Linked DNA regions of Homo sapiens. The gene in region 6 interacts genetically with the main gene of each other region. Each region holds a gene or a part of one and is shown on either strand. Other genes may lie near its edges.

What was found.
Region 1: changes in SLC39A3 (region 6) and B3GNT2 together harm fitness less than expected from each alone (positive genetic interaction), as found in Homo sapiens cells (one large-scale study listed by BioGRID).
Region 2: changes in SLC39A3 (region 6) and MAN1A1 together harm fitness more than expected from each alone (negative genetic interaction), as found in Homo sapiens cells (one large-scale study listed by BioGRID).
Region 3: changes in SLC39A3 (region 6) and TRAPPC13 together harm fitness more than expected from each alone (negative genetic interaction), as found in Homo sapiens cells (one large-scale study listed by BioGRID).
Region 4: changes in SLC39A3 (region 6) and MAN2A1 together harm fitness less than expected from each alone (positive genetic interaction), as found in Homo sapiens cells (one large-scale study listed by BioGRID).
Region 5: changes in SLC39A3 (region 6) and MTF2 together harm fitness more than expected from each alone (negative genetic interaction), as found in Homo sapiens cells (one large-scale study listed by BioGRID).
Region 7: changes in SLC39A3 (region 6) and MAN1B1 together harm fitness less than expected from each alone (positive genetic interaction), as found in Homo sapiens cells (one large-scale study listed by BioGRID).

The regions. Positions count from the first base shown.
Region 1 is NC_000002.12:62,194,726-62,198,914, forward strand, and holds the start of B3GNT2 (N-acetyllactosaminide beta-1,3-N-acetylglucosaminyltransferase 2), read left to right. Parts: upstream 1-1,389; 5' UTR 1,390-1,630; intron 1,631-4,189. UniProt on the Homo sapiens protein: Beta-1,3-N-acetylglucosaminyltransferase involved in the synthesis of poly-N-acetyllactosamine. Catalyzes the initiation and elongation of poly-N-acetyllactosamine chains. Shows a marked preference for Gal(beta1-4)Glc(NAc)-based acceptors.
Region 2 is NC_000006.12:119,203,262-119,206,761, reverse strand, and holds part of MAN1A1 (mannosyl-oligosaccharide 1,2-alpha-mannosidase IA), read left to right. Parts: intron 1-1,879; coding exon 1,880-2,003; intron 2,004-3,500. UniProt on the Homo sapiens protein: Involved in the maturation of Asn-linked oligosaccharides. Progressively trim alpha-1,2-linked mannose residues from Man(9)GlcNAc(2) to produce Man(5)GlcNAc(2).
Region 3 is NC_000005.10:65,659,527-65,663,026, reverse strand, and holds part of TRAPPC13 (trafficking protein particle complex subunit 13), read right to left. Parts: intron 2,329-3,500; coding exon 2,130-2,328; intron 978-2,129; coding exon 877-977; intron 1-876.
Region 4 is NC_000005.10:109,783,927-109,787,426, reverse strand, and holds part of MAN2A1 (alpha-mannosidase 2), read right to left. Parts: intron 2,684-3,500; coding exon 2,501-2,683; intron 1-2,500. UniProt on the Homo sapiens protein: Catalyzes the first committed step in the biosynthesis of complex N-glycans. It controls conversion of high mannose to complex N-glycans; the final hydrolytic step in the N-glycan maturation pathway.
Region 5 is NC_000001.11:93,131,283-93,134,782, forward strand, and holds part of MTF2 (metal-response element-binding transcription factor 2), read left to right. Parts: intron 1-2,420; coding exon 2,421-2,526; intron 2,527-2,645; coding exon 2,646-2,698; intron 2,699-2,808; coding exon 2,809-2,913; intron 2,914-3,500. UniProt on the Homo sapiens protein: Polycomb group (PcG) protein that specifically binds histone H3 trimethylated at 'Lys-36' (H3K36me3) and recruits the PRC2 complex, thus enhancing PRC2 H3K27me3 methylation activity.
Region 6 is NC_000019.10:2,737,218-2,741,298, reverse strand, and holds the start of SLC39A3 (zinc transporter ZIP3), read left to right. Parts: upstream 1-1,281; 5' UTR 1,282-1,354; intron 1,355-3,919; 5' UTR 3,920-4,041; coding exon 4,042-4,081. UniProt on the Homo sapiens protein: Transporter for the divalent cation Zn(2+). Mediates the influx of Zn(2+) into cells from extracellular space. Controls Zn(2+) accumulation into dentate gyrus granule cells in the hippocampus.
Region 7 is NC_000009.12:137,106,834-137,109,683, forward strand, and holds the end of MAN1B1 (endoplasmic reticulum mannosyl-oligosaccharide 1,2-alpha-mannosidase), read left to right. Parts: intron 1-416; coding exon 417-614; intron 615-697; coding exon 698-829; coding exon of another isoform or gene 830-1,129; exon of another isoform or gene 1,130-1,545; intron 1,546-1,554; coding exon 1,555-1,758; 3' UTR 1,759-2,350; downstream 2,351-2,850. UniProt on the Homo sapiens protein: Involved in glycoprotein quality control targeting of misfolded glycoproteins for degradation.

The DNA.
Region 1 (4,189 bases), on a different chromosome or scaffold from region 6:
TGAATTCCTGTTTCTAGAGGACCCGCACCCACGTGGCTCTGTGCATCCGCAGCAACTTGGTCTTTCTTCCTTTGCTGAGTTTGGTTAAGGGAAAGGGCCGATTATTGAGTGGGCTCAGTTCACAGGTGCCTGAAATTCCTACTTAGCAATGTTCCTTTCCAGCTGATTCCGCCTCCGAGAGCCTTAGGAAAAAATGCTAACAGTTAGGAGCGAAGCGTCCTTAATTGCTCAGTCCAATTATCTAGATGGGTCCAGGTTCGGTTTCGATTCAGAGATAAGGACCAGGGGGCGGGGACGCTTCCAGGTGAGCCCCTGGTTAGGCTTGCCTCCCCGCGGAGCGCACGCGGGTCTCGCTGGCTGGACTGGGCCTTTCAAGACCAGGTAACTTCTCCATCCGGTATCGCCAGGCTTACCTGGGGGCCTCAGAATTGTGTCAGCTGCGTCTCTGAGTCACCTTGGAACCCCTCGAAGGAGCGCGGGGCTAGGAGGGCGCATCGGTGGGCCCGGGGACCCCGCTGCTAGGTGTGGTTGGCGCCAAGGCCGCCTCTGGCCGGCGGAGCCCTGCAGTGTCCGGAGGGTGCGGTCAGAGTCCGGCCCTTTAGGCCTTGCCTCGGTATCCGCCTTGCCCCTTGGGCCGCGGCACGGGTTCGGGCCGAGCGCCCGGCATCTTGCGTTTCTGGCTTCCTGAGACGGGCGTGGGACCTCGAGGAAACCACTCTGCATGACCCCACGAAGAGAACTAAGGACCACCCCCCACCCTTCCTGTCCTGGACGGCTTCATAAGCCAGAGGATCCAGTGGCAGTACCAAGCAGGGCACCACTCTGGGTCGTGAGCACCTAAGAGGTGGAGCAAAGGTCAGACCCCAGGGTGGCCCAGGCCTCCCTCCCCCGCCTCCCCGGCGGGGCCATTCCTCACCCGCCCCAGCACTGGAGGGGGCGGCCGGGGTCGGTCTAGTTCCGGTTACAAACTGGACAGAAAAGGCCACTGGAGTCTCGCTAGGCGATGCGCCTAGTCCCCTAGCCTCAGACGAACCGCAAGAGGGGCCACCCACAACTGGAGGGGCGGAGGCTGGAGCTGAGTTTCATTAGTGTTTTTGGAGCTGCCAGGCATTTCCAGGGGGGTCGCCTTCCTAGAGGCCCCCTTTCCCCAGCTTAACCCTCGGCTTTGCAGGAGGGTGCGTGGGGGCTGGAGGGTCCCTGGAAGCCGCAGGGAGCGCGGGCCCGGGTGGGTCCTGGTACCGGGTGGGGAGAGCGGAACCCTCCCAAAACTTGGGGCGCGGGGCGGGGCCGTCGGGCGGTGACGTGAGGGGCGGGGCCGGGCCCCATTGGCGGGCGGGCAGGGGAGGGGCGGGGCCGGGCGCCCGCGGCGGCTGCTGCGCCTGGAACCGGAGCCTGGAGTGAGGCGCAGCGGCAGCGGCAGCAGCGGCAACAAGTGCCGGAGGCTAGCAGAGCCAAGCCGGAGCAGTCCCTGCCGCCGACACCGCCGGGCCGCCCGTCCGGGGCGCCGCGCATGGAGCGTGAGCTGCGGCGGTCGCCGGGCTGAGCCGCGCGGAGCGGCCGGGACGTGGATGTGGCCGCGATCTCCCGCCCTTGCCCCCGCCCCGCCGAGCTGGAGCTGCTCCCGGACAAGGTAGGGCCCGGGCGCCGAGCACCCCCGCCGGCTCCCTCCCCGCTGCCCTCTCACCGCCAGGCCCCTCTACCAGTCCCCTTCCGCCTCCCTGCTTCCCGGCCCCACCTTCCGGACACCCTGCTACCCCCGCCCGGTTCCTCGCCGGTTCCGGCTTCGTACCCGCGCCCCGGTGGAGGAAGCCGTCCCTAGGTGGCTCCTGCCGCATTTAAGCCTCCCTTACCTTCCCGCCGTCCCAGCCACCCAACCTCAGCCCAGAGGGAGAGGAGAGGGACACCGCCCGCTGCGGGGCTTTGGAACCTCCCAACCCATTCCGTGCCCACCTCGCCCTGGAGCCCGGGGACCTTCCCCCTCCTCGCTGCACCCCAACTTCCGGGGGATCCGGCGCCGGGGCGATGCGGGCTTTGGCAAGGGGCATCTGGGGCCGGGCCTCCTCATCCGGGGCGCGCGGGCATTTCGGGGAGGGGGGCGCGCGTGATTCCTCGCTCGCACCCCCGCACCCCACCCTCGCACTGCGCCGGCCTCCCGTGCCGCATGGGGAGATCAGGTGTTTTGTGAGCCAAAGAGCCGCCGGCAGCCGCTCCCCACCCCCCACCCCCAACCTCTGCCACTTCTGTCTCCGGCTCCCCCAAAACTGGTTTCTGCCAAACTTAGGGAAAACCTTTCGCTTTGACCTTTTAAAAAAAATATTCCACACTGTTTGCGTTGAATGATTAACCAGGCTGCTAGCCCGAGTCGTGGGGGTGGGGTGGGGCGGGGTGGGGTGGGTGCTGCCAGGCCAGGGAGCGCCTGAAGCCGGACTCTACGAGACACCCCTCGTGGGAAGGTGGGCGTGGGGGGCCCTGCCGGGGCTGCGGGCGCGGGACTGGCGGCTACTCCAGCACGGCAGGCGGACCCTTCTGGAGGCAATAAACCGAGTCACCCGGTTAATTTCCAGGCCACGGTATTTGAAACTCGGGGCTGGGGAGCCGCAGAACTCCCTGTACCCCCATCAAGTAGAGGAGCCGTCGGGAGACTCCCCACAAGTGTCACAGCGTCAAAGCTCATCTTTAAAAATATGTACATTTATAACCTGGGTTGGCGAGGCGGCGCTCTTCTGCCCAAAACGTAGGGGTGGTTAGTTTGTAGAGTGGGCTTAGCTCACAGGTGCCTGAGCTGTATCCCCGTGGCCGCCTCAGCCACCCCAACTTCTCAGAAAGATTGTTTAGAACAATTAAACTATATTCTTTTGCCCTTCTCTTGTTGGAACCCTACCGTAATATCCGATAGCGAAGCCAGTTGGTGAATATAGAATTCTACTTGTTAAAACAAATTCTTCCGGTATAATTATTTGTGCCTCTGGAGGTGGTAAACGAGGTGGCCGACAGGGCCGGGACTGGGAGTGAAAAGGCGGGGACCCTGGCCGAGCCAGTCCCGGGGCTCCGGTGCCGGCTTATAGTCGCACCCATGCGGATCTGACAGCTGACCCGGAGGGAGGACCGGCAGGGCAGGGCAGGGCGGTCACTTCCCATTGTCCTAACTCCTGCTCCTGGTTCTTTTGAGTAGAGGGTGGTTAAGCCTGGAGGAATTTGGGAGAGTTTTACTCGGAGCCCATGCGCTCTTAAACCAGATTAGATTTTAAGAACACAGAAGTGAAGGAGCCCCATAGGGCTGTACTTGAGTAATTTGAGTAATCCTTTTCCTCCCTGCTCAGACTTTACAAATGTGTTTATCATTAGATCTTCTGTTTGAAACTACTTTTTTAGTTCGGAATATTGCTTTTTCTCCCTACAGCAAGGGTTCACTGTTTCTCATTTAGTTTTTGTGCAGGCGGCATTTGTATGATGAAGGCCTAATTCTCTGTGAAACTGACCAGTTCTCACCCTTGCCATTCATTAGACTTGATTCTGCCACATTTAATTCAGTGATCTTGGGCAAGTTATTCTTCACCTGAGCCTCATTTTACACATCTGGTTTTGGGGATGGTGGTGTTTGCTCTGCAAGATTATTTCTGAGGACAAATAGGATGTTTGCCAAACTCCTAGCACTGCACCAGGAGAGCTAAGAAGTGCTTAATAAATGGTGGTCATTGCTGTAATCAATAGAGAAGTTCCTCCTGGCATCGACTTCCCCTTACCAAAAACAGTAACCCTGTGGTAGCCTTTTAGATTTCCCTGTCTGAGACTGAAATCAGCCACATTTGGCAGATGCACATCAGAAGGTTCTTAAAACCTAAGTAGTATTTTGAGGAAAATAAGCATGATTTGCTTGTTGTTCAAAAATTATGAATTTTTTTCTGGGCTTCTGGTGAAGGGCTGAATATATGAAGGTTTGTAGTTTTGAAAATTTTCTTGTTTTAAAGAAAAGTCATGTTTTAGGTTTCTGATAAACTAAAGTTGTGCTAAAAATAGGAAAGTAGAACTGATAATTCATAGTTGATTTTGACTATACTGTTCAGATATGTGGTTTTTTTTAAAAAAAATAGTTGCATTAGTGAGGCATCGTTGGTATGTTCTGAAGAGAAATATGCAGGGCTTTTTCAGCTGATGCAGGGATAAAAGAAAAGGTGAATCTTCTGTTTCT
Region 2 (3,500 bases), on a different chromosome or scaffold from region 6:
AGTGATATGTCATGACAACTAGTTAATGACCAATTACCATGTGCATTTGCCATATGTTAGTAAACTTTGAAAGTAGCTATTCATCCTATTTGGATGATTGGAAATTCTTTTTTATAAGCCAACTATGAAAATAAAACCTGACTCACATTCCCAGAGCCTAATAAATTTAGGGCATTTTGTAAAATAAATGAATATATCATTTTCAGATCTCTGTGTCTTATTTCTCTTTACTTTTTCTTAGATGTACTGTATATCAGTGTTTTGGAGGAAACTCTAGGTTTTGCTGTAGAAAGGAGCAGGAAGTGAGAGTGAGGCGAGCCCAGGACTGCAAGCGCCAGTAATCCTCATGGTTTCTCTCTTCCTCAGCAGCCTGGCAGCAGACGCCAGGACAGGACTGAAAGGGTTTACCCAGAGCTGTGACTGATACATGGCAAAAAACAAAGTGGGGGTGGACACCAAGAGCATTTTGATGGGGTCTACCTTAGAAAGAGAGGAAAGCAAGAATTCCACAAGCCATTAAGACCTGGCTCCAACCTGTCCTTCCAGCCTTCTCTCCCACCAACCTTCCTTTCCTCCATTCTGCAGTGTAACAGCTGCCTCTGGTTCCTGGCCAGCCCCTCTGCTCGTGTGTTCTCCCTTGCCCAGATTCTCATCATTTTTTCCTCACCAACTCGTACTTGCCCTTCAAGAATCAACTCAGGAGTCTCTTCCTTGAAGAAGTCTTCTGTGATCCATCCCCACTACGCTGGATTGTGTGTCCCAGCTTTAGATGCTCAGAGAACTCTTCACACATTTATCTCGGCATTCATCATGTGTGATTGGAACTATTTATGCTTAGTTCTTGTTCTGTCATTGCACTATTAGGTCTTTGAGAAAAAGTGATTGATTATCATAACCATGCTTGTAACCCAATGCCATGTATAGTCCTAGCAAATAGTAGGCATGCACTAAATGTGCATCTAAACTAAAAGTGTAGGATTTTAGCTATCAGAAAGGGAATTTATTAGGAGAATAACGAACTTTATTCTTTTGAATTACCACATCTTTCTTGAAGTGTTAAGTGGCTCTTCAGAAATAAACTGTACCCAAGAGTACTGCCATGTCTCAGGAGTCACTTTATGTGTATTTGTATGTATGTATGTTTATAACTTTTTTAAAAGGCCTAGTTTTTTAAAAAAGCATTTCTCCAAGAAAGGCCATGAAGCAGTAATTTCTGAAGCTCATGGCTTTCACCTTTCCAGATTTTTATAACATAATTTTGTTGAGATTCTTGATCATAGGTTATATAGAGTACAGAATGAGTTAGCACCTTAGGTAATATGCTTAGAAAAAGATAAAATAGTGTGAAGATACACGTAAGAAAGGAAGTCTGGTAAATGCAGGAAGATTTGGAGAGGGATGAAGTGAGTGTATAATTAGTGAATCTTTGAAATTTATCTTCTATCCACATAAAATTTTGTATATAATGTGAATGTCCAAAATTCCTTGGTCTCTTAGGCTGAAATTAAAATGTTGAAGAGCTTTATGTGGCATTTGGGCATGGTGGGAGTGTTTTGGTCAGATTTTCTTTTATATTCTATGTGGAATGGTTATGCATCTATATAGCACCTGTATTTTCCAAAAGATTTGTGTGTTCACCAACAGCAAGTACTCAGCAGCTTTTTTCTAAATTAAGTCAACAGTAATTTTCAATTTGGAGATAGGAGACAAACCCTAAAACTGGTAGCCAAAGAAGACAGTGCTTGGTTTTATAATATCTAGAGTGGACTATTAGCTAGGATGCCTTTTTTTAAAAGCTGTCTATTTCATGTCTGCTATTTAGATAGTGAAAAACGGAGTTAATCTGACCCATAACTCTTCGACGTCATCTCTTCTTTAGTGGTATTGGAAGGAACTGGCCCTGGGCCTCTGGAGGCAGCAGTATTCTGGCAGAATTTGGAACCCTGCATTTGGAGTTTATGCACTTGAGCCACTTATCAGGAAACCCCATCTTTGCTGAAAAGGTGAGATTCTTCAATGTGCCTTGGCCTGCAAAGCAACACTTATGAGAAACAGTATTGTCTCTGAGAAGGTTTAGGAATTTTTGAAGTGGAAATAATAACCAAATTTGTTATAGCTCTTTCTGAAGTTTTGCAACATGCAGCATTTCATTTAGCCAAACTGTAAACCTACAGCCTTTCCAGTGCACCACTCTAGTTCAGGATGTGAGGGCACAGCTTCCACCTCTGGTTCCCTTTACCTTAAGTTAGTTACTTAACTCATCTGAAGTTTGTTTCCTTATCTAAAAATATTTAGTAATAAATGCACTGCATGAGCCAACTATGTGAAAGACAGACTGAAAGTGTCGTACAAATGTGATGTTGCAGCTGAATTGGTCCCTCGTTTTCCGAAAGCAAACCAAATATTTGGATAAATTCATGTTCCCCCCATCACTCTACTTTTATTTTCAACCTGCTTTTTGGCTTCCCTTTACAGTAAAATTGCTTGAAAGAGTCGTCCCTGTTGTCTACTTTTCAAGTCTCTTGAACCTGCTCCAGTAGGACTTTTCCCCCAGCCACACCTGTCACAGTGACCAGTGAGCACAACAGTGCCAAAGCCACTTACCATTCTCCCCTTCATCTTCCTTGCCCTCTTAGCATTCGACACAGTCAGTTCTTCGTTCCTGAGATACACTTCGCGCTTGGCATGTAATACTCTCCCAGTTTGTCTCCTCTTTTGCTGGATGCTCCTTCTGTCTTTTTTGTGTCCTCCTCAACACCCCACCCTCTAAATATTGGAAAGCCCTAGCACTCAATCCTGTGCCTCTGCTTGTTGATATTCACTCCCTACATTGTTGCATCTAGTCTCTGGGCTTTACATACCATCTCTATACTCTAGACTCCAAGTTTATTATTTCAGTCCCAACCTGTCCCCTGAACTCCAGACTCTATATCTGTTTATTAAACATCTCCACTAAGAGGCCCGATAGACAAGTCCCACTTAAAATGCCTCGGACTTAACGCCTAGACGTGCTTCTCCAGTCTTTGCTATCTTGGTAAATGACATCTCACTGTACCCAGTGGTCTCCTCCTGGTTCTTCTTCTTGGTAAACCCCAGGCCCAGTCCACTAAGAAATCCTTTGGGTGTCTCACTGCCTCTACTGCTGTCCTGATCTGGGATCCATCAGGTCACCTGGTGTACTGTATGTACACCATACAGTAGCCACCTGACCACCCCTTCCTCACCCCCTCAGCCTTCTCATGACACTCAGAGTAAAATATGCCCTTATTGTGGCCTGTGGGGCCTGGGTGACCTGGGCCCTGGCTCTCCTCTCCTCTACCTGCTGACATTCTCCCCTTTGTCTCCTCACCTCTGGCCTCAGTAGCATTGCAAACCTGCTGTCTCCTCAGGGCCTTTGTACTTGCTCCTCTCTCTGTTCCGAGTGCTCTTCCTCCACATTTCCACGTGGCCTACTCCCTCACTTCTTTAATATTCTGCTCAAACACCTCCGCCTTGCCAGG
Region 3 (3,500 bases), on a different chromosome or scaffold from region 6:
AATAATTCCAGTCCAGTGAGAAAGAGACTAATACTTACAGTAATATATGAGTGTCACTAAATACACAATATATGAGTGTCACTAAAAAACTAAGTTAAAATTTTCTATGATGGAGAAGGCATGAATACCTGTGCTTTGGAAAGTCTAGGTAGCTTCATAGAGGAAGTGGGTATTTCTGTAATTTTGAAGGATAAATATTTCCTATCTTTCTAATACCAAAAAGAATAAATATGGAATTAAAAGGATTATACATTCACACTAAGAGGACTAGGATTCATCACTGCAATATTATAAAAATACCCCAAATAATAATACAAACCAAGTGGTAATACAAGTAGGAGCAGAGGGCATAGGACTGGAACTTAATTCTATTTTTTTCTGGTTTCAAAGCCCTGTGCTCTTTGCTTCCTGACAGTTCAGATTATGCTCTCTCTTTACTGTCAAAACCCAGTTTTCGAATCAATGATCTCCCCTTACATTAAATCCATAAGCAATGTTTGGTTTCTTAATACTCAAGATACAGCTCAAGTACAAGCATGCCTCAAAAAATCTTGCTACTTCAATTCATAATATATTAATACATAAGAACCTATTAGTTCATGTTTTGGTGAAGGAAGTATAAACAATGAATACCTACCTCATAGGGTGTGACAAATGAATGAAATAAAATACAGAAGATGCATAATACAATAGGCCCTTAAAAATATGTAATTATACTGCTACCAGATGAAGAATTTTACAGTACTCAATATCAACATCAGAGAAGGCTGTATGTCAAGAGGAAAACTTAAAAGGAGATAGTAACAAAAAGATTTTAAAATTATCTTCTAGGCAGGTGAGGTAGAAAGGACATCCATCTACAAACAGTGGCATTACCTGCAGTTTGTTATTTTACAGGTAATATGAAAAGGTTCTTCAAGGTTTACGGTATCTGGTATTGCCTCCAAAGACAACCTAACATCTCCATAACCTGGAGCCTAAGAAAACAAGCAACACAGTTAATGTATATCTATCACAAAACCTTTCCATTTTAATGAAGGCACCACAGCAGCACATTTACTCAACAGCTGTTGGGTTTCCAAGCTGATGTTCTAAGAAAATACTTCTGATTCACTTTACTTGTCTCTCATTTTAAATTCTTTTGCAGCTACTGCCTGTGGAATAGCCTGGCAGACCTGGACTGTTTTTGTTATATAATTATTCCATGTTCAGTAGAGTTAAGATGAATCTCACAGGTAAGTAGTCAGTAAAGAAATTTCAGGGAGTTGAAGGGACACTTTCCAGATGCTGTAGCTTCTATGTGTGTAACTCTAAATAGGTAAAGTTATTTTCTAAAGAAAGAGGGGGATGATGTTGAAAGGAGCCAGGAAGAAAATCATGACTTTTTACAAGACGCACAGATGAGGATGGATTATAACAACACGAAGGCTTGGAACAGGCCATGGCAGAAAAATAACTAACGGCTATATTTAAGTGGGCCCAGGAATCATCATCATCATTTTTTAAAAATTATTGCCTCAAACAGTGGAAAGAAAAGTAAAATTTGGAATATGTCAAAACAGGTAATATTCAGCATAAAGGGAGGAGAATCCTGTCGTATATTCTTACAAGCATAAGAAAAAGAAGCCTGGTAGCTATCCCTACTCTCAGAGAAGAAATTAGGTAAAATATGCAACCAATGCTTATAAGATAACTTTAGTAGAACTCACCTTCTGAGGAGATGCCTCAGATTTTTAACATCTTAAAAATGGTAGGAACTGAGTAGGTGAATGAAGTAAGTCCAAGAGTTTCAGGACATTGCAAAATAGAAAACCTTAATGTGTTTGGAAATCAGAAGAAGAGTGAGCATGTGTTACCAAAGGAGAGACACTTAATAACAGTTATTTTAATTTCTGTGTGATAAAGAACACGTGTATTAAGGATAAATTAACATTTGACCATTTTTCATTCATGGCAACACCAGTCTTCGACCTACCTATCAGTGACACTATTAATCTTTTCTGCTCCAGTAGTAGTAATGCCTTTTATAGTGCTCCAATTTTTTACTGCTGGATGTAGAAAAAATTAAGTTGTTCTAACTACCTGTCTTTCACACACCAAAACCCCAGCGAAGTTTTTTCCAGACTCACCATTCTTTGAAGTTGGCTGGTCTGTAACCTTCCCCTTTCACCTAGATTTGTTTTCCATACTATATCCAATTTTCCAATTACTGTTACTCCCTTAATGATGCCTGCTTTTTCTGCAAATTCATTCTTTGGCTTTAGGCAGTATAAGTACTGGCGTGTATCCATTGGTTGCAAATATGCTCTTGACCCAAACGTAGACACACTGAGAGGGGTGGAGACAGAGACGGAGAAAATTCTCTAGCATCTTTTAAAAGAAAAACCATGGCTGTGATTGTTCCTTTGGATAGGAACTGGATGATGTACCCTCCAAAGATCAACAACAGAACATGTTAACGATTTCAATACAAATAAAAAGAACGTATACTGCAATGATTTATTTTTCCTTCATTTTTTTCAGTTGATATCGAAAATCTTGAGGTTCTTTATAGTAATTGGACCCCGAAAGGCAGGGGTCCCTTTTTTTTTTTTTAAATAATTTTAAGAGACAGGGTCTTGCTCTGTCACCCAGGCTGGAGTACAGTGGTATGATCATAGCTCACTGTAACTTCTAACTTCTGGGTTCAAGGAGGTTCTTTATAATAGAATGTAATATATTACTTATAAAATTGAACATGTATCAATTAACTGAAAAGTGCAACAGAAACCAGAACCTTAAGTATCCTGTCTCTTTTCTCTAAAATTATCAAAGATAAGAGTTTAGAATAATAAGAGACATACCATTCTAAACTAATTTTCAAAATGAACTAAAACATCTAGAAAAGAATGGAAAATTGTTTTCCTCAGTGAGGATGAAAGAGGCTATGAACTTTTCTGTGTGTAACCAACCTAAGAATATAAAAGCAAACTTTTCATTCCTAATTAAGAAATTCAGATGCTATCCCAAGCTATTACCTTCTTCTTCTTCTTCTTCTTTTTTTTTTTTTTTTTTTTTTTGTTTAAAATACAAGGTCTCTCTCTGTCACCAGGCTGGAGTACAGTGGTGCAATCATGGCTCACTGCAGCCTTGAACTTGTGGACTCAAGCGATTTTCCTGCCTCTCTCCCAAGGAGCTAGGAATGCAGGAGTGTACCACCATGCCCAGCTAAATAAAAAAAATGCCAAGTTGCCCAGGTTGGTCTAGAACTCATAGCTTCAAGCAATCCTCTGGCCTCAGCCTTCCAAAGGGTTAGGATTACAGGCATGAGCCACCACACCCAGCCTATTACTTTCTTATCTGTATTATTGTCAACTTTACATTTATTCTTCCTCTTTTAAATTAGCTGTGGAAAGGTGTATGTATTTCCTTTTCACAAAGTATTAAACCATCTATTCCTATGTCCTTTTCTTTTGATGTTGAGAGAGTATTTCTTTTTTTAAACCCACATTCACCCTTAC
Region 4 (3,500 bases), on a different chromosome or scaffold from region 6:
GGCCTCTAATTTCCAAACATACACTTATCCTATTAATACGGAATACGGTTCGGGAAAAATCACTTGGGAATCACAGTTTCTTAGTTTGCTGTTATGGTTGTTGTATTAAGGAGATGTTAGCATGTCTGCCACTATATAGTTTGTCTACATTTTAGGACCCTCACGCTCACCCTGTGTTCCGTTTTCTCCCACCTACCTTAATTACAAGTTAGGAATAATTAGCGGAATTCTAAAACATTTCTCTAAATGACCTCATTACCATTTCTTCTTCCCTTCTACATAAGCCACATTATCTATTAATACTTTTAAGCTGACTATTACAAACATTGTCCCAATCTAATTCATTTTTTTCATGCCATGATTAGAATTAATCTCCAAATATGCCATGATGTATTCTTGCTTTCCAGTTTGTAACTATATACACATTCGATCTATTGTTGACAGCATGCTCTCAGATTCCCCCTACTATGGCAGAGGAGAAAGAAGGGCCTGAATGCCTGATGACACTGCAGAGCTGCCATACCAGAACCAGTTGTCTACAGATTTTTTTCATATGACATAAAAATAAGCAGGACAGGATTTATTCTGTTTCTGGTTGCTATTACTCGCAGCCAAATGCACCCCTAATTCATAAACTTGTTCACAGTGATATTTCTGCCAAATTTGAATGAATAGTAGTCATCAGTCCAAGTTCAAGAGAACACCCAATACTAACTACCTCTTTGTTAATAATTCTCTAACTTATGTTTTGAAATTTCCTCCTTAAAATGTCTGTGCTAATGACTTGGTAATTGTTTATGACTTTTCAATGAACTGTGAAGTACTAACATAGCAAATTTACAAATGCCAAGTACAGTTTGAGACTTACTACCTTTTTTTCTCTAACACGCAATTCTACACGGGGAAGTTTTTATAAGCTAAAAGCAACACAAAACATATGGAGGAACCAATGATAGCTCTTCCAGACAGGTCAAGATACAAAAAATCTTCTGTAGCCAAAGCTCAATGACCTATAAGCAAATCTCTTTCGATATGACAGCCAGAGATAGCAAGTGGGCGGTGTAGGAAAATGACTTTTCTATGTCCTCTTAGGAGCTCTACCCTGGTCTGATTCTAAGCAGTCTCACTTTTAAACTCTCAACAAACCAAGCAGGCCAGGAGCAGGTAAGAAGGAAAAAAGGAGGATCTGACCTTACTTTCAAAAATGGTTTCTGTGGGAGAAATACCATCTTTATCATCTAATGAGGGTTTTCTACTTTAACCCCAGATCAACCTCGACAGGTGGGTGTCATATATATTTGCCATTAAAAAATGGAGAAGATATTCAAGATACTACTTTGAATGCATTTTTTAAGGACTGAAATCAACTAATGAAAACCCAAGAATATCTTTTTCCCCCAATTTCTAGAAAGCCAGTCAAAATATTGTAACTAAAAATTTAATTAACATTTACTACAATTAGTAATATAAGTCGTGAGTCAATTTTTTAACATTGATTTTATGTGTTGTATACGCTTTTCTCATCAAGGAGTAGTACTAAGGATATTCACTTTTAAAATCTATTCTTTAAGAAAATCACAGTATATTTTAAATGACTTTAAAATGTTATCAAAGCACAACACTGCTGATAAACAGTATCAGGAAGAATAGTCTAAACTACAGTAAATAAAATAGTCAAAACTCCTTCCCCAATCTAGGAATGCCCCCTGCACTGATCCTAATGAATGAATGGTCATCCAAAGGCTGGCGTGAGGATAGAGAACTCCCTACTACAAAAGGTAAGATTTCTTCCCCCTTATTAGGAAGCTCTGTTTGCCAAGTCCTCTGTTATCTCAGACCATGCCTATACTCATTGTTTCAAAGTCTTTAATATAGAAATAACTTAGCTTCTACTCCCTTGCCCATCTGAGAGCCCTTCAATGAGTTAAAGATGGCTTTGATACCAACACCCAGGTCATCCTTTCTCATTCCCAATGGCTTATATCATCCACATATGATAAGGTTTATAGGTCTTTTTCCTTCCTGGCTATGCTTCTCAGCTTATTATGTCAATATGCCTCTTAAAAAAAAAAAAAGAAGTATACAAGAACAATTGGATATGAAATAGGATGAGATTAAACTGACATACAATGAAGTAGGAATCTTTATCTCTCTACATTATAACTATGTTTTATTTGATGCCAAGTCCTTGGTCAAGAAGATAACTCCAGTCTCCACACTGTTATTTAGAAGAAAATAGGATCAGCTTTAAACAGTAGTAATAATATTTTACTACCCTATTTGCAGAAATGCATTGCAATAAAAAGTTGGTGCAGCTGGGACTCTGTCAACAGATTTCTTAATATTTGAATATCAGTGCTGTTTTGATACAGTAATACTTATGAGGGATATCATTGTTAATGTGGTTTGATATACACTAACAACTTCACCAAAAGATATAATCTTATTACCCATAATTTTAATGATTTTTTTAAAGATGATTTTTCTATAATTAGATTACCTGGTACCATAATCCACAACCACCCAGTCTTTTGCAGTTCCTGTGATAGCATCATGATGTTGAAACAGTCCCAAATTCCTTCTGGCTTCTGTCAGTGCCGTGTAAAGTGATGATGAGAGAAATTTATTTATCTTGTATTTGTGAGCTTGTCTCAGGGCGAAATAGTAAAGAATTTCAGCAGCCCTAATTGCATAAAAGTCATATTTTTATTTTAAAACAAACACTTTAGCTTATAATCTAAAACTTGTGACATTGATACTTTACAAATTTTTTAATCCATAATTGCAGTACAAGCAATTTATGAAAAAGATATTGGTAATAATAGTTCATATAAAACAACCAATGTATCCCGTATAACACATTTACGTTCTCAATCATCAAAGAATACCATGTCTACACTGGTATCAGGAGTCCTTGTTCTAGATGATCCTGAAAAAGAAGCCAGAACCTGTTGGCAGCAAGACAGGCTTATTTATGAATAGCACAGTGAAAAAAATCTGAAAAATTGGATAAATTTCTCTGTCCTTTCTTCTCTCCAAGAGCAACACACACATAGACCATGAACATCACCAGAATATCATTTACTCTCACATATACACATTAAGAGAAATGAGAAAGAAAGGCATGGTCGGTGAGCGGGACACTCAGAGGAGAGGAGAGGCAGAAAATAATGGCCCAAGAATAGTTCAGGGGAAAGGGTTAGTTTCAGTTTTGAATGATAACATATAACAAATACAGAGAATTTAACAATACAAACTGAAAGATGATAAACAGTATGTCGGCTGGGCATGGTGGCTTATGCCTGTAATCCTAGCATCTTGGGAGACCAAGGCAGGAAAATCACTTGAACCCAGGAGTTCAAGACCAGCCTGGACAACATAGAGAGACTCTATCTTAGCCAGGTGTAGTGACATGCACCTATAGTCCTAACTACTCAGGAGGCTGAGGTGGGAGGATCACTTGAGCCCAAGAGTTTGAGGCCGCAGTGAACTAGGATCAC
Region 5 (3,500 bases), on a different chromosome or scaffold from region 6:
GTATATTAAAGTGTATTGAATGCTAGTGAGAGGTAGATTAAAATGAAAGAAAAATATTTATTGCATAAGGTATCATTTTGTTATTAGTGACCTTGATAAAAGGAATTTCTTTGAAGTGGTACAGATAGAAACCAGATAGGACTGGGTGAAAGTATGACTGAACCCAGCATTGCCAAATTTACGTGTCAAACTGGGCTTCTCCTGCGTATCAGGGACACAGGCAGATTCAAAATAATAACAGTAGTAAAGGAAAGGAGGAAAATAGGAAACTATCTTTAAGGATCCTGAATGAGAGGGGAGAAAATGGAAAGGGTATATGTCATCAACACCTAGAAGCTTTCCTATGTAGGGAGGCCGACAAATGGAATGGCAGCTGAAGAGGGGGATAGGACTAGTCAAATGATGGTTTTTTAAAATAGATGGGAGATAGTTGGAACCTGTTTTTGTGTGTAAGTAGGAATGATCCAGTGGAGAAGAGGAAATTGGTATAGGAGAGTAGAAGCCAAAAGAGAAGGGATGTAGAGCCTGAATGTGGGACTGGCCTTTTCTAGAAGGAGAAGCATCCTTCTGTTGAAATGGGGTGAAAGAGAAGATGGGTACAGATGCCAGTTCTGTTGTAGATTGGGCAGTTGGAAATTGACCGAAGTTCTTGCCTGGTAGCCTCCATTTTCTCGATGAAATATAAGGTAAAGATAGCTGAGAGACTTGTACAGAGAGGGGAATTTAAGGGTCAATTAAGGGTATGGAATAGTCATCTTGGAGATAAGGAAATTGACTGAAGTTCTTGCCTGGTAGCCTCCATTTTCTCGATGAAATATAAGGTAAAGATAGCTGAGAGGCTTGTACAGAGAGGGGAATTTAAGGGTCAGTTAAAGGTATGGAATAGTCATCTTGGAGATAAGGAAAATGTCATTACAAAGCCTTGACAATGAGTCCAGTTATATGAAGTTTGTAAGAAATTAGCTACTAATTAAGTTTTCTTTGAATGAAGGAAAGAATGCTTATTCTATCACTTTCAGATTTTGTCACTCAGATCCTTTGCTAGCAGTTGCCCATATTATGAATCAGAAAAAAAAATTCCACAAGCTTTTTCATTTCTATCATGATTGTGATAGGATATTCCCTTTGTGGTAGCTATCAGGTCATCTGATGCCACCAGATAAGGATTCAGCTGCTTTCTTTAAAGGCATCCTCAGTTCCTTCTGGACCTTGTGTATAAGTTGTTCCTTTTAGTTTGAGATTACTTTCTTTAGTCCAGGAGTCCTTTATAAATATTATGTTGATCATTTTACAAAAGAAATGGATATCCCATCCATCTTATTCTTGAGACTTTTGATTATAGCGTCTGGTTCTACTTTGTCCTTCTAGTTCCCCTACTTTCTCCTTCCTCATACTTCCACCTTTATTCCCTGACCTTTTTTGGCATCTGGAGGGATAAGTTTTTTTCCTACTTTCTCCATTCATCTCTTTCTAGGCTATTGTATAGTGTTCTTTTTTCTCTCCTTAATTGAAGTCTCCTGGACAATTTCCTCATAGCCCTCACTCCATTTTATTAGCTTGGCTTGTATACACATTTGTCACTTTCTAACTATATTGTGAACTCTTTAGCACAGGGAACACCTTTGTATCCATATTATCTAATATCATCTTTATATGGTAGCTATTGCTGAGTAAATGAAATAGATATTCTTTCTATATATATATTTTCTTTTTTTCTATAATTAGTGTCTTTGCCTATTGCACTTTTTTCCTTCCTATTGCTTGGTATTTGGCTTTATGTTTAAAAAATGGTTTTCTAGGTCTTTCTGATTTTTCCTTTTGAATGACTCCCTGAGAATATGAAGGATTTCTTACTCCTTTCTCCTTTACATTCTGCCACTCTGGGCTTCATTCTCTTTCTGATAGTGTCATTCAAGAATCTACATATATATCTAAAGGCAGCCTTTATGACTACTACAATGTTAACATAGATATTTCCTGACTCCATGAAGTTAACTGCTAAATTCATAGTCATTTTTAGTAGTAAATCCTTGAAACATCCTCCAAGTTGTAACCACCTAAAATTAAACTATATAATTGAGCTTTTAGGAGTTTTGAAATCTTCCATCCAGTATAATTGTCTGGTTTTTGTTGTTGTTTTTAAATCTTTAAGTGGTATATATTGTTCAGAATTATATTAAAGAGGACTTTCTTTAAACCTTTCATAATGTAAATATCTTTAAAGTCAAGAAATATTTATTTGGATTAGAATATATTATCTGTGCACTTGACTAAACTTGTGGATTCAACTAATATTTACTTTTTATTACCATTAATATAAAATAATAAAATATATGTATATGTGTCTAGTTACATACATAGAGTCAATGTCTTTGTTTTCTTTATGCAGAGATTAAATGCATAATGGTTTTCCATTTCAGGGAAGTAAGCAATGGCATAGAAAAAAAAGGAAAGAAAAAATCTGTAGGTCGTCCACCTGGCCCATATACAAGAAAAATGATTCAAAAAACTGCTGAGCCACTTTTGGTAAGAGGATATGTTGGTATATGTTCTCAAGAAGAAGGATGCATGAAATAACTGAGAAGCTAGTATTTTTTTCAGCTTACTTTAGAGACATGCTTTAAGTATATATTTTTATTTTCCAGGATAAGGAATCAATTTCAGAGAATCCTACTTTGGATTTACCTTGTTCTATAGGGTAAATAGAAAGTTATTTTCTCCCTTTCTAGGTTTTGTCTTTTGAGTAGATATTAATATTTGTTTGTTATATAATATAGTCGTTACACAATTTAAATTCTTTTGTCTCAGGAGAACTGAGGGAACTGCACATTCATCCAATACCTCAGATGTGGATTTCACGGGTGCTTCCAGTGCAAAAGAAACTACCTCGTCTAGCATTTCCAGGCATTATGGGTAGATATTTTACATTCTTATTTTTTTTACTTTTTTTACTCTAGATTTCTTTTCTTTGTAAAGTGTTGATTGAATAATTTTTTAGCAATTGAAAGTGATGTAAGTTGTGTCTATCAGCTTTTTGAGAGGTAATCCATATGTAGATCCCAATAGTTGTTAATATTCATTTGAAATATTTTTGCTTTCTAGAGTACAAATGTATTTTTCATGTTTGTGTGGAAATTTGCTGTGTACACAGAGAAAAAGTATACCATTGTTTAGAAGCTGTGCTCGTTAGGCTTTTTAATGCCTCTGCTACACAAGTGTTCTTTGCTTTAGGAAGATATGATTTTTTTTTTTCTTTTTAAGAGACAGATTCTCACTCTGTTGCCCAGGCTAGAGTGCGGTGGCACAATCATGGCTCATTGCAGCCTCAAACTCCTGGCTTCAAACAATCCTCCCATGTCGGCCTCTCTAGTGGCTGGGACTACAGATTGTGCCACCACACCTAAGTAATGCTTTTTTATTTTTTGTAGAGATGGTTTTGCTAATTTGCCCAGGCTGGTCTTGAACTCCCGATCTCAAGTGATCCTCCTGTGTTGGCCTTC
Region 6 (4,081 bases):
CCATGATCACGTTCATGGCTGTTGGTAGCATTTGGTTCCTTATGGACGCTTGTGCTGAGGGTCTCATTGCCTTGCTGACTGTTGGCTGGAGGACACCCTCAGTTCCTTTCCCTCTGGATCTCTCCAGCATCTTAGCTTGCTTTGTCAAGACACGTAGGCTGAGAAGGCGAGAGACAGGCTCTGCTGGCAAAACAGAAGTCACAATCTCTCATAGCCTAATCGCAGAATGACATCCCATTCATTTGCCATTTTCTATTTGTTAGAATCAAGTCATCAGGCCAAGCGCAGTGGCTCATGCCTGTAATCCCAGCACTTTGGGAGGCCAAGGTAAGAGGATCACCTGAGGTCAGGAGTTCAAGACCAGCCTGGCCAACATGGTGAAACCCCGTCTCTACTAAAAACACAAAAATTAGCCGGCATAGTGGCACACGCCTATAATCCCAGCTACTCGGGAGGCTGAGGCAGGAGAATCGCTTGAACACGGGAGTCGGAAGTTGCAGTGAGCCAAGATCGCGCCATTGCACTCCAGCCTGAGTGACAAGAGCGAGACTCTGTCTCAAAAAAAACCTTTTTTTTTTTTTTAGAGATGGGGTCTCACTATGCTGCCCAGGCTGGCCTTGAACTCCTGGACTCAAGCGATCCTCCCGCCTCGGTCTCTTAAAGTGCTGAGATTACAAGTGTGAGCCACTGCGCCCTGCCAAGATTTGGTTTTTAACTTACGCGTTACCTCCTATACTTATTTTTTCATGGTTTGAACATGTAACATCTACTTTCTTAGCAATTTTGCAGTATGCAATGCATTGTTACGAGCTGTAGCCACCATGATGTACAGTCGATCTCTTGGACTTACTCCTCCTGCCTATCAACAGAGATTTGTTGAAGGGATGAATCTGCTTCTTCAGCCGTCGGTAAGGGGATCAGCAGCGAGGACGCTGAGAGAGGAGCCGCCTCCGTTGGAAATCCCTTCCCATCCACCTCCAAGCCTCTTTCCAAGCGGGATTCAGCACCAGGCGCCCCTGGACAGCTCTGGAAACCCAACCCTGCCGGAACCGTTCCTCGCCAATCCGGGTTTCCCGCCGGGGCCGCTTGGTGGCTGCGCCCGCCGCTCAGCGGGAGGAAACCCCTTTCCTGTGCCGGTAGGAGAGGTGGAGTCGCATATGAGTGGCAGGTTTCGCAGCCAATAGTATGGAAAGTTCTGCCAGCGGGTCTCGGGGAGGCCAATGGGCAGGGGCGTGGGCGGGGCGTGGACCAGCCGCGCCGAGCGGGGCCTCTCCGGGCCGCGTCTGTGGGGTCGAGACTGCGCGGCCGTTGGGCGTGCAGCGGCGCCAGTCGGCGGACGAGGGGCCCCCGGGAGGTAGGTGCGGGCAGAGAGAGGACCTGGGGCGGCGGGGCGGGGCGGCGCTGAGCGGCCGGGGGTCTGTTGGACTCTACCCGCACGTTAGCCGAGGCCCGTCTCCGGTGCCCGGTAGCGCGAGGCACACAGAAGGCGCTCAATAAGTGCTGATTGAATGAATGAGCCCGTGCCCTCCTCATCCCGGCCCGAGCAGCCTCCGGTTTGAGAGCGTGCAGGCCACCCTCACCTTCACTGTACAGACTGAGGTATCCAGATGCCGGACAGGTCTTTATTGGGCGCCTACTGTGTGCCTGGGTGGCTCTGCGCTGGGTGCAGCTGGCCCTGAGCAAGACAGACAGCCTGGTCCCGCCCAGCTCACCGCCGGGGGGGAGGGACGACTTTAAATGACTTAAAATAATGTAATTCCTAGCTCCCTCTGTAGCACAAAATAAAAGAAAATAACACCAGGGAAGGGGGCGGGGAGAGCTCTGAGTGGAGACATCTGAGCAGTGACCCGAAGACCTGAATGCAGTGAGGTAGCGGGGCCATGAGGCGCTTGGGGCTGATGGTGGGGGAGAAAACCCAGTTGGGGAAAACTCAAGGACAGGGGAGGAGCTGAGATTCCTCCTAAGAACGGTGACATTTTGGGGTCCAGGGTGAAACCGACTTCACTTTGGCCCATTGCATCAGGTAAAATGCGGCCCTTATCAGTGGCCACACGCTTCCCCTCGTCCATGTGTTCAGCCAGCGGTTTTTGAGTATCTGTTCTGCAGCAGGCCTTCCGGCGGGTACAGGGATATGGTTTAGGGCAGGAGTCAGCCAGGGGCAGAGAGGGAGGCCCTTTTTTTTTTTTTTTTTTTTTTTTTGAGACGGAGTCTTGCTCTGCAGCCCAGGCTGGAGTACAATGGCGCGATCTCGGCTCACTGCAAGCTCCACCTCCTGGGTTGAAGCAATTCTCCTGCCTCAGCCTCCCGAGTAACTGGGATTACAGGCACGTACCACCATGCCCAGCTAATTTTTTTTTTTTTTGAGACAGAGTCTTACTCTGTCACCCAGGCTGGAGTGCAATGGCTTGATCTTGGCTCACTGCAACCTCCACCTCCTGGGTTCAAGTGATTCTCCTGCCTCAGCCTCCCAAGTAGCTGGGATTACAGGTGCCCACTACCACACCCAGCTAATTTTTGTATTTTTAGTAGAGACAGTGTTTCACTGTGTTGGCCAGGCTGGTCTTGAACTCTCGACCTCAGGTGCTGGTCTCGAACTCTCGACCTCAGGTGATCTGCCCACCTCAGCCTCCCAAAGTGCTGAGATTACAGGTGTGAGCCACCACTCCCAACCGAGGGAGGCCCTTTTGAGGGGTCCTGGATGCAGAGAAGCAAGAAAGAAGAAGGAGGCCTCGCTGGAAGGTCAGGGGAAAGAGAGCAGTGTTCCAGGTGGAGAGAGGAGAACCCATGCAGAGGTCCTGAGGCACGAGCAAGCTTGGCACAGAAAGGACCAGTGAGGGCCGAGGCGAGGCAGGAGCTTGTCATGCAGAGCTTCAGCCTCAGGGTACAGAGTTTAGACTTTATTTCGGGGCATGGGGAAGCCATGGACCACCACCATCCAATAGCATGTTCTGCAGTGATGAGAGTGTTCCCTTTGCTGTCAAATACGGTAACCACAGAAGTCAAGTAGGCTTGTGTGACTACTGAGCGCTTGAAATATGGCCAGGGAGACTGAGGAGCGGAATTTTGTATTTTATTTAGTTTTTTTTTTTTTTTTTTTTTGAGATGGAGTTTTGCTCTTGTTGCCCAGCCTGGAGTGCGGTGGTGCCATCTTGGCTCACTGCAACCTCTGCCTCCTGGGTTCAAGCGATTCTCTTGCCTCAGCCTCCAGAGTAGCTGGGATTACAGGTGCCTGCCACCACGGCCGGCTAATTTTTGTATTTTTGGTAGAGACGGCGTTTCACCATGTTGTCCAGGCTGGTCTCGAATTCCTGACCTCAGGTGATCCACCCACCTCGGCCTCCCAAAGTTCTGGGATTGCAGGTGTGAGCCACTACACCCAGCCTGGATTTTTTTTAATTTTGATGAACTTTTTTCTTTTTTTGAGACAGTGTATTAGTCAGGGTTCTCTAGAGGGACAGAACTAATGGAATAGTTATATATATAAAGGGAAGTTTATTAAGTATTAATTGCACACGATTACAGGGTCTCACAATACATTGTCTGCAGATTGAGGAGCAAAGAGAGCCAGTCCGAGTTCCAAAACTGAAGAACTGGCCAGGTGCAGTGGCTCACGCCTATAATCCTAGCACTTTGGGAGGCCGAGGCAGGCGGATCACGAGGTCAGGAGTTCGAGACCAGCCTGGCCAACATGATGAAACCTCGTCTCTACTACAAATACAAAAAAAATTAGCTGGGAGTGGTGGCGCGTGTCTGTAATCCCAGCTACTAGGCAGGAGAATTGCTTGAATCCAGGAAGCGGAGGTTGCAGTGAGCGGAGATTGCACCATTGCACTCCAGCCTGGCAACAGAGCGAGACTCTGTCTAAAAAAAAAAAAAGAAAAAAGAAAGAAAGCTAATGCAGTGCCCCTGATGTTCACAGTTGCTGGACTGAGACATGAGCCTCCAACTGTGTGGTTGGGCTCGGTAGCACATCGTGGGACTTGGGTGTGCGCCCACAGATGGTTTGGCCCTGCAGTGACCAGAGCAGCCCAAGCCGCCACCATGGTGAAATTGCTAGTGGCCAAAATCCTGTGCATGGTGG
Region 7 (2,850 bases), on a different chromosome or scaffold from region 6:
GGCCGCCGCCCCTTTTACCTTGGCTTCCAAGGTGCCTGAGTCATGATGTCAAAAAGAACGAAATCCTGGCCATGGCGCCCACGTGGAGGCCCTGGGTGGACCGTGGCTGCCTGGCCAGGCCTGTCTTGGCAACAGGGCAGTAAGGCCTTGTGTGGCACCTGGGGTGGGCAGGGCTTCCCCAGGGCAGCTCCCTCCCCGTGCCCGGTGTGTAGCAGGTCCTCGGGCGGTGTGTGGGGGCCGGGTTGGAGGGCCTGGTCCAGGCAGCTCCGCTGTTCCATGCCAAGTGCCCTCGCGTGGCCTCCCCTCCCAGGGTACCAGGGCCGAGGCAGCGCTGGGCTCCCACGTTGGCTGCCCGTGCAGCTGCAGGCTGAGGGCAGGGCCTGGGATCTGGGGCTGAAGAGACCCTCTGATTCCAGGACCACCTGGTGTGCTTCCTGCCAGGGACGCTGGCTCTGGGCGTCTACCACGGCCTGCCCGCCAGCCACATGGAGCTGGCCCAGGAGCTCATGGAGACTTGTTACCAGATGAACCGGCAGATGGAGACGGGGCTGAGTCCCGAGATCGTGCACTTCAACCTTTACCCCCAGCCGGGCCGTCGGGACGTGGAGGTCAAGGTGGGCCTGGGCCTGGGTCAGGGTCCATCAGGAGGAGGGTGCTGGCAGGGCTGGCCTTGCCCTGAGCTCTGCTCCGCCCACAGCCAGCAGACAGGCACAACCTGCTGCGGCCAGAGACCGTGGAGAGCCTGTTCTACCTGTACCGCGTCACAGGGGACCGCAAATACCAGGACTGGGGCTGGGAGATTCTGCAGAGCTTCAGCCGATTCACACGGGTGAGCACCTGTCCTCGCCCCGCGTGGTCACGGCCACCGGGCCACAGGCACGGCTGGGCTGTGGGGCTCAGGCTGGCTCCGCTCTTGGTGGTGGCTGTGACCTGGATCCGGGAGGGGCGGGCTTGCCGCAGCCTCGGGGTGGCCACACTGCAGCTTGGGGGCCCTGGCATCCCCATCCCCACTGAGCTTCATGGTTGTGGGACCCAGAGTACTTGGAGGGGCTGGGCACCCCTCATTTTCATTTCTCAGGGCCTGTCTAGGGAGGGTCTCTGCTGTGGGCCCAGCATCCCCCCAGTTTAGGAGGCACACGCACCCATGACTGGGGCACCATCCCCACTGTGGACCAGGCCCTGTTTTAGGTCACGCCCTCCACGCCAGAGTGTCACTTCCTGGCTCTGCTGTGATCTTGGCCTGAGGCCCCCGCTGCCTCCGCTCCCACCGTCTGCCCTGTGCCCTGTGCCCTGTGCGGCAACTGTGAGGCCCCCTGAGCCCAGGTTCTGGGGGAGGCGGTTTCTGTCGTGGTCACTTGAGGGTTGTTGGCATTTCCAGGTGGGCTCCGGTGGAACCACACGGCTCGCCTGGGGGTGGCCATCATCCAGGCGCCCTCCACCCTGAGCTTGCGCTGGGGGCCACATTCACCATGGGGTGGAGAGCGCTTCGGTGATGAGGCTGAGGGGGGTGCAGGGTGCCCCCCGTGTGGTGACGAGGCCCTGGCTGCTGCACAGGTCCCCTCGGGTGGCTATTCTTCCATCAACAATGTCCAGGATCCTCAGAAGCCCGAGCCTAGGGACAAGATGGAGAGCTTCTTCCTGGGGGAGACGCTCAAGTATCTGTTCTTGCTCTTCTCCGATGACCCAAACCTGCTCAGCCTGGATGCCTACGTGTTCAACACCGAAGCCCACCCTCTGCCTATCTGGACCCCTGCCTAGGGTGGATGGCTGCTGGTGTGGGGACTTCGGGTGGGCAGAGGCACCTTGCTGGGTCTGTGGCATTTTCCAAGGGCCCACGTAGCACCGGCAACCGCCAAGTGGCCCAGGCTCTGAACTGGCTCTGGGCTCCTCCTCGTCTCTGCTTTAATCAGGACACCGTGAGGACAAGTGAGGCCGTCAGTCTTGGTGTGATGCGGGGTGGGCTGGGCCGCTGGAGCCTCCGCCTGCTTCCTCCAGAAGACACGAATCATGACTCACGATTGCTGAAGCCTGAGCAGGTCTCTGTGGGCCGACCAGAGGGGGGCTTCGAGGTGGTCCCTGGTACTGGGGTGACCGAGTGGACAGCCCAGGGTGCAGCTCTGCCCGGGCTCGTGAAGCCTCAGATGTCCCCAATCCAAGGGTCTGGAGGGGCTGCCGTGACTCCAGAGGCCTGAGGCTCCAGGGCTGGCTCTGGTGTTTACAAGCTGGACTCAGGGATCCTCCTGGCCGCCCCGCAGGGGGCTTGGAGGGCTGGACGGCAAGTCCGTCTAGCTCACGGGCCCCTCCAGTGGAATGGGTCTTTTCGGTGGAGATAAAAGTTGATTTGCTCTAACCGCGATGTCGCCTGTGTCTTTAGGGATCTCCATGACTGGAAAGTCTGGGCGGACGTTGGGGAGAAGGTATTCTTCAAGTCACGTCTCAGAATTCGGTTTGCTGAGACTGGACTCTAGCTGTCCCCTGCTGGTGGGCAGGGAGAGGCCACGGGGAAGCTCCGTGTCCCTGGCCCCACGGGGCAGATGCTTGGCGGGAGGCATCCTTGCGCCTGCGTTTCACACAGGGCCTGTTTCCCTGCAGGGCTGGCACTGAGGCGCACAGCTGAGGGATACACGGGCCCTCAGGTCAGGCAGCTCCCAGCAGCCTGGCATGGCTATGGCCCCGAGCCCTGGGCTGTGGTGGCAGAGTTGTCCTCATCATCACTCTACTGCTGTCCCTATCCCAGGGCTGACCCTGGGCCTTGGCTGGGTTCCCCCCGACCCTGAACCAGGTGACCTCTTAGGACCACGCCCCCTCGCTCTCCCCTGTGAAAAATCCATCACCTTCACTTCCGGAAGA